Homo sapiens: one gene and its partner. The protein of the gene in region 2 interacts with the protein of the main gene of each other region in a pairwise test. Each region holds a gene or a part of one and is shown on either strand. Other genes may lie near its edges.

Region 1 (3,652 bases), on a different chromosome or scaffold from region 2:
GAAAGTAGTTCATCCCTGGATTTGAGGAGCCTGCCCAGGAAATAGGCTAGGAAATACCCTTCGTTCTGCTCTGGACGGGGCTAACTGCAGAAAATCCTGCCAAAGGCAGAGTCTGCAAGCTTTTCTCCAGACCTAGGACACAACTGTGGCCCACCCCACCACACCCTGCACCCCACCACACCCTGCACAGTATGGGCAGGGCAGCCAGCAGGGAAGAGGACATTCTCTCCACAGGTGATACCGTCACTTTGTAATGATCCATAAAAAGGGGAAGGCTAATTTCTACCTAAGAGTCCTAGTGTGGTCAAGAAGAGACCATGTACCATGGGGTGGGCCACTTTCTAACGGACCCTTCCCCTTGAGGAGTGAGAGTCAGAGCCGGAAGTAGGCTGGAGTGAGTATTTCACCTGTCCACTGCCAGCAATGGACCTGTCACAGGACAAAGTGGGGCAGGGGAACCAAGGTGCCAATGCCCATGAGTGTGGCAGGGTTAATACTGTTTAAGGAGTGAGCTCAAAGGGTCAGCCTTGCTGGGAGGAGTTTGGGGAGAGGGGCAGCCCTGAGGTTCTGCTACCAGGGCTGAGGCTCTGGCAGAACCAGAACTGATACCCTCCCACAAAGGAGGCTCCAAGGAGCCTTCCACAGCTGCAAGGTCCTCCTCTCTTTCTTCCTCTCATTCTCCATCAGTCTCCAATGCTGGATACCTGGCTTCTCCATCCCATAGAAAGCTAGACTGCTCAGTTTTGGCTTGAAAATAAACCAGGCAGGGAATAGATGACCTAGAACTCTGGCTTTTCCCCACCAAACTGACTTGCCTCTAGGTCCCCACTGTGGATCCACAGGGCCTAACCCAGCCTGCCTGTGCATTGGAGGGCATCATTTGTTCTCAGCTGAGCCACTGAGAAGGGAGCACTGCCACAGCCCACTAGACCGGGGGTAGGGAGGTGTAACTCAGGAACTCCCCAGGCATCAGGCCAGCCGGAACAGTGGAGGGAAGGGCTGCAAGGGGGTGAGGGTTGGGGGTGTCTCAGGGCTTCATCTCCGGCAGCTCCTGTGCTGGCTAGGGAGCTGGGGTGGGGCAGGTGTGGCGACCGACGTGGATAAAGAGCCGCTAGTGGTAAAGGCTTTGAAAACAAGACAGAAAAGGGGGAAACGCCACCGAACACACGGGGATTGAAACCTCCAAAAGCCCAAGGTTGGTGGGAATCCAGCACCACGGGGGCCCCAGAAGGCCAAGGGAGCAGCGCAGGGCCCTGGGGGAGGGGAGAGGAGCCAAGGGAGGGTCTCCCAGCCCTTGCAGACCAGCGTTGCTGCCACGCAGCCTCCTGGCTGCCCAGTCTCTCCTCGGCTGCAGCTCAGCAGGCCCCTGGGGAGGTATTGGTTGCAAGCAAGCACCTGAATATTGCCTAATGGAACCAGCCAAAGCTCAACTAAATCCAGATCGGAGGGAGGGAGGTCAGGCCTTGCCTCCCACCTGCGGCCCCATTCTCATTGTCCCTTGGCCAGGACAGGGCCTGCTGCTTCCAAAGTCAACTACATAGTCCATCGCTGCTCAGCCACAGGCCTCCTGGTACCAACCCCTGAACTGGGCCGCGATCCATGGACCCTTCCCAATGTCCCTCTGCTGCCTCCACACCCCATCCCCCAACACCTGACCACGGCCCCCCAACACCGGCCCCCGCGGACGTTAGGGGGCTCTGTGTGCCCTATAGGGCTGAGGCTTGGCCGGAGCAGGGCTTTTGCTGCATGGATGGGGCAACCTCACCAGCTTGGTCTCTTTGTCCATGAGTTCCATGAGAGATCCCCAGGCCCCCCACCCGCTTCCTGCTCAGTCAGTCTTGACATGGCCGTTGGCCAGGGCTAGGGCGCCGCTGGGCTCCCCGGGCTCAGCGTCCTTGTCGAAGCGGAGGCGGAGGGTGTTGCGGATGATGAACTGCTCCATGATGAGGGCCCCGCAGAACCAGGGCACGGCGTACTCCAGGGTGATGAGGCCCATGAAGTCAAAGTCGAACTGGGAGTAGTCCCAGGGGCAGGCGTTGAACTGGCGCAGGATGAAGCCGGTGGTGAACTCCCACAGGTAGGTCCAGAGCGTGTAGATGAGGCAGCGCAGGAGCAGCGGGCAGCGGCCGCGCAGCCGCAGGTACATGCGCTCCACGATGAGGATGGAGGTGCCGTAGATGAAGAGGGCCCACACGCTCGTGACCCCAGGGAACTTCCAGTTCAAGTTCACCACGAACTCCCAGGCCGCTGTGAACATCACCTCGCAGAAGTAGCCGTGGATGGCATACAGGTACCAGCGGGACAGCGCCGTCAGGGGCTCGGCAGACGCCATGGCGCCGACTGGGGCTGGCTGCGGGGGGCGCAAGAGAGACAGGTGAGGGCCGGGCGCGGTGGCTCACGCCTATAATCCCTGCGCTTTGGGAGGCCGAGGCGGCGGATCACTTGAGGTCAGGAGTTCCAAACCAGCCTGGCCATCATGGTGAAACCCCGTCTCTACTAAAAATACAAAAATTAGCCTGGCGTGGTGGCCCGCTCCTGTAATCCCAGCTACTTGGGAAGCTGAGGCAGAAGAATCGCTTGAACCCGCAAGGCAGAGGTTGGAGTGAGCCAAGATTGCGCCACTGCACTCCAGCCTGGGAGACAGAGTGAGACTCTGTCTCCAAAAAAACAAAACAAAAAAAAAACAGAGCAAAGAACAGAATAACCCACCCACCCCACTGACTTCTCTGCAACTCTACCCAAATGCTACTTAGAGGGAGGTGTCTGTACTCCCTAGAGCTTTTTTGGATTATCTGTGGTCAGTTGAAGAGTCGGCTGGCCTGCTGCACCAATCAGCCCCATTTCTAGACTACTTGCTGATTTCTCAGCAGGCCTATCCACTGGGGACCCCATTTCTTCCTCCACTTCTTCTCAAACAGTTCCATGTCACTCATATTTCTGAGATGTAAGTGACTCATCACATTTGTCCTTGTGTGTGTGCATGCCATTTTTTAACCATGTGTAAGTGTACAATTCAGTGGTCTTAAGTACATTCACATTGTTGTGCAACTGTCACCACCAACCATCTCCAGAACTTTTTCATTGTCCCAAACAGAAACTTTGTATCCATTAAATACAAACTCCCATTCCCCATACCCTCAGCCCCTGGCAACCACTATTCTATTTTCTGTCTCTATGAATTTGACTACTCTGGGTGCCTCATATAAGTGGAATCATACAAACACTGTCCTTTTGTGACTGGCTTAGCATAACTGGCTTAGCTTTCACTTAGCCTAATGTCTTTAAGGTTCATCCATGTTGCAGCACATGTCAGAATTTCCTTCTTTTTTTTTTTTTTTTTTTGTGACGGAGTCTCGCTCTGTCGTCCAGGCTGGAGTGCAGTGGCGCAATCTTGGCTCACTGCAACCTCCGCCTCCTGGGTTCAAGCGATTCTCCTGTCTCAGACTCCTGAGTAGCTGGGACTACAGGCACACACCATCATGCCCGGCTAATTTTTGAATTTTAGTAGAGACGAGGTTTCACCATGTTGCCCAAGCTGGTCACAAGCCCCTGAGCTCAGGTGATCCGCCCGCCTTGGCCTCCCAAAGTGCTAGGATTACAGGCGTGAGCCACTGTGCCCAGCCAGAATTTCCTTCCTTTTAAAGGCGGAATC
Region 2 (3,752 bases):
TGTTCTGTACTAAGACAAATTCTTCTGCTTTGGGATGCTGTTAATCTATGACCTTACCCCCAACCCCGTGCTCTCTGAAACATGTGCTGTGTCCACTCAGGGTTAAATGGATTAAGGGCGGTGCAAGATGTGCTTTGTTAAACAGATGCTTGAAGGCAGCATGCTCCTTAAGAGTCATCACCACTCCCTAATCTCAAGTACCCAGGGACACAAACACTGCGGAAGGCCGCAGGGACCTCTGCCTAGGAAAGCCAGAGACCTTTGTTCACATGTTTATCTGCTGACCTTCTCTCCACTATTGTCCTATGACCCTGCCAAATCCCCCTCTCCGAGAAACACCCAAGAATGATCAATAAATACTAAAAAAATTAAAAAAAAAAGAATAAATGAGTAGCTGTGTTCCCCTGCCAGAACCTCCAAACAAGGTCCAAAGACCCTGAGCAAATGAAAAGGCACAGACAAAAAATATATATATTTCAACACAAGTATATGACACAGAATATAGAAATAACTTTTCCTAATCAATCAAAATATAAGCAACCCAATTTAAAAATAGGCAAAAGATTTAAATAGACATTTCACAAAAGAAGATATTTGAATGGACATGAAATACTGTTGTGAGCTGCATAATGACATTTTGGCCAACAATGTACCACATATATGATGGTGGTCCCATAAGATTATAATGAAACTGAAAAATTCCTATTGCCTGATGACATCATAGCCTTCCTAGCACAAAGTATTGCTCATGTGTTTTTGGTGTTGCTGGTATAAACAAACCTAATTGTATAGCACATACAATTATGTATGTATATGTAACTATGTATAATACTTGATAATAATAATAAACAACCATATTGTTAAAAAAAAAAAAAAGCTAATTTTTTTTTTTTTTTAGAAAACCACCACCTGGCTGGGTGTGATGGCTCACACCTGTAATCCCAGCACTTTGGGAGGGTGAGGCGGGCGGATCATCTGAGGTCAGGAGTTCGACACCACCCTGGCCAACATGGTGAAACCCCATCTCTACTAAAAATACAAAATGTGGCGTAGTGGTGGGTGCCTGTGATCCCAGCTACTTGGGAAGCTGAGGCTGGAGAATCACTTGAACCCAGGAGGTGGAGGTTGCAGTGACTGGAGATTGCACCACTGCACTCCAGCCTGGGTGACAAGAGCGAAACTCCGTCTCAAAACAGATAAAAAAAAAAAAAACCCACCACCTGTGATGGGTGAGGGAAGCAAAGTGTAAGCCACTGCGCCTGGCCCACAGGCATTGTTTTTGAGGACATTCCTCAGTCATACCCCTGCATACAAATATCTATCTCAGAATCTGTGTCATGGAGAAACTGACTGAGGACACATCTGCTCCTAGGACGTAGAGACACGGTCTGCAGACAACCCCTTGTAGGCAAGGATTGTGATGGGGATCACCCCTCCTTCCAGCCTCCTACCGAGACAAGCAGTGTCTGAGTGGGGCTTGGAAGAGTTCATAGATGATGCTGCATCCCGGATGCAGACTGAGATCACTCTCCAGTTAGAGAACCGGACAGTTACCTGTTACCACCAGATCCAGCAAGTTGCTGGGCTCTGACCAGAGCTCCCCAACCCGATAGATGCAGCTGTATTGCCCTGCCATGCGGGAGTTCATGTCCGGGATGTAGAATTGGACTTTGTTAATCCGCTCAGGGGGTTTTGGTCTGTCCACGGCAAAAAGGCTTCCTTCAAAGTGCAGCTGGTATTCAACAGCCCCATAATTTCCCTGGCAACAGATGGTCACTTGCTTTTCCTTTGGAACCATGAAATGGGGCTCGGCCCAGATGAACGGTTTTGGGAGAGTCTCTGGAAGGGAATCAGAGGCTGGAGTTCCAGCGGAGCCCCCTCCCCCCAACCTTAGGCTCCACCCAGCTGCTGGCCCCAAGCTCTCCTGGGAAGCCAGCACCCTGTCCCCTCACCCCAGCCGTGCTTGGGTGGAAGGAGCTTGGCCTGAATCCGGAAGAGTGACCCTGGGCTTTGAAGGAAGGACTCACGCTGCTGGGCGCTGATCCTCTGACTCAGACACAGCCCTGGAAGACGGGAGTAATGAGACCTGTTGCCTCCCAGGCACACCGTGATCCCATTCCCCTTCCACGCCAGAACTCACCGACGCAGAGCAGGGCAGGGAGTGTGGAAGACATCGCTCAGATTCTGCCGGCCTAGTGCTGAGCAGTGGGGACTGAGCCGGGCGGGCCAGGGAGATAGATACACAGGAAGTGGTGGGTGAGCACCAGCGCCCATCACCAGAGCGCTTTCACGTTGACTGCTTTCATCAGAACGTTCACAACTCCCCTCCGCCTCTGACCATGAGCTTACAGAAAGGCCGTGGTCCCTCTGACACATCTGTGGTCTAGCCAGCAACTCTGACAATTGTCTGCTCAGCCCAAAATGCATTTCTGGGTCAACTTCTCAATTCTGCAATGTGGAGGTCGTACCCAGAGCTGACTGTGGGAAGTTGTGCCCAATCATGCCCAGAGGAAACCCCCTGAGAATCGTATAAAAACATAGGGAGTTTCACAGTGAGATACTGGAACAGGAATTAAAAGAAATTACAGAATGTGTAAACAAAAACTCAGTTGTATTTAAGAAAACCCAGTTCCCCCCGAGGAAGAGAAAGAGGTGGAGTCCTTTAAACATGAACTGCCTGTTTTTCTGTCTGTGGCTAGTGAGCCTTATCTCTCCCTTTCCCAGGCATTGTGAAGACCCTGTTTCTCTTGCCGTGCGGCTGCAAGGTCACTAGACAGGATAACCTCAAGTCGTAAAACATATTTTTCTTGAAAAGTAAGGAATAATGTGATGCATGTCTCAATTGAATAACTGCCTTTGTTTCTTGCTTCTGTAATATGCTTCCCCCTGCACAGATCTCCCCCAACCCCACAAAATGCTTAAAAGGTAACCGGACTCTCTGTTCGAGCCTCAGTCTTTTTGGATGTTAATCTGACTGGGGCCGGTGCACCTAAATAATAATAATAATAATAAATCCTCCTCAACCCCTCGGTCTCTCTGATTCCTAAATTATCCCTCAACAATACCATCTCACACCAGTCAGAATGGCCATTACTGAAAAGCCAGAAATTAACAGATGCTGGTGAGATTGTGGAGCAAAGGGGACACTTATACACTGTTGGTGGGTGTAAATTAGTTCAGCCACTGTGGAAAGCAGTTTGGTTTGGAGATATTTCAGAGAACTACAAACAGAGTTACCATTCAGCCCAGCAATCCCATCGCTGGGTATATAGCCAAAGGAAAATAAATCATTCTACCAAAAAGACACATGCACTTGTATGTTCATTGCAGCAGGATTCACAATAGTGAAGACATGGAATCCACCCAGGTCCCATCAGAGGTGGACTGGATAAAGACAATGTGATATGTATACACCACAGAACGCTATACAGCCTTGAAAAATCACAAGATTATGTCCTTTGCAGCAACATGGATGCAGCTAGAGGCCATTATCCTAAGCGAGTTAACACAGAAACAGAAAACCAAATACTGGCCAGACACGGTGGCTCAGGCCTGTCATCCCAGCACTTTGGGAGGCTGAGGCAGGTGGATCACCTTAGGTCGGGAGTTCGAGACCAGCCTGACCAACATGCAGAAACCCTGTCTCTACTAAAAATTCAAAATTAGCCGGGTGTGGTGGCACATGCCTGTAGTCCCAACTACTCGGGAGGCTGAGGCAGGAGAATTGCTTGAACCTGGAAGGTGAAGGTTGC

What was found.
Region 1: the proteins of NCR1 (region 2) and TMEM229B interact in binary tests that used the Homo sapiens proteins (3 or more experiments, as listed by UniProt).

The regions. Positions count from the first base shown.
Region 1 is NC_000014.9:67,471,592-67,475,243, forward strand, and holds part of TMEM229B (transmembrane protein 229B), read right to left. Parts: intron 2,351-3,652; 5' UTR 2,347-2,350; coding exon of another isoform or gene 2,333-2,346; coding exon 1,829-2,332; 3' UTR 1-1,828.
Region 2 is NC_000019.10:54,904,610-54,908,361, reverse strand, and holds the start of NCR1 (natural cytotoxicity triggering receptor 1 isoform a precursor), read right to left. Parts: upstream 2,215-3,752; 5' UTR 2,175-2,214; coding exon 2,141-2,174; intron 2,064-2,140; coding exon 2,028-2,063; intron 1,840-2,027; coding exon 1,555-1,839; intron 1-1,554.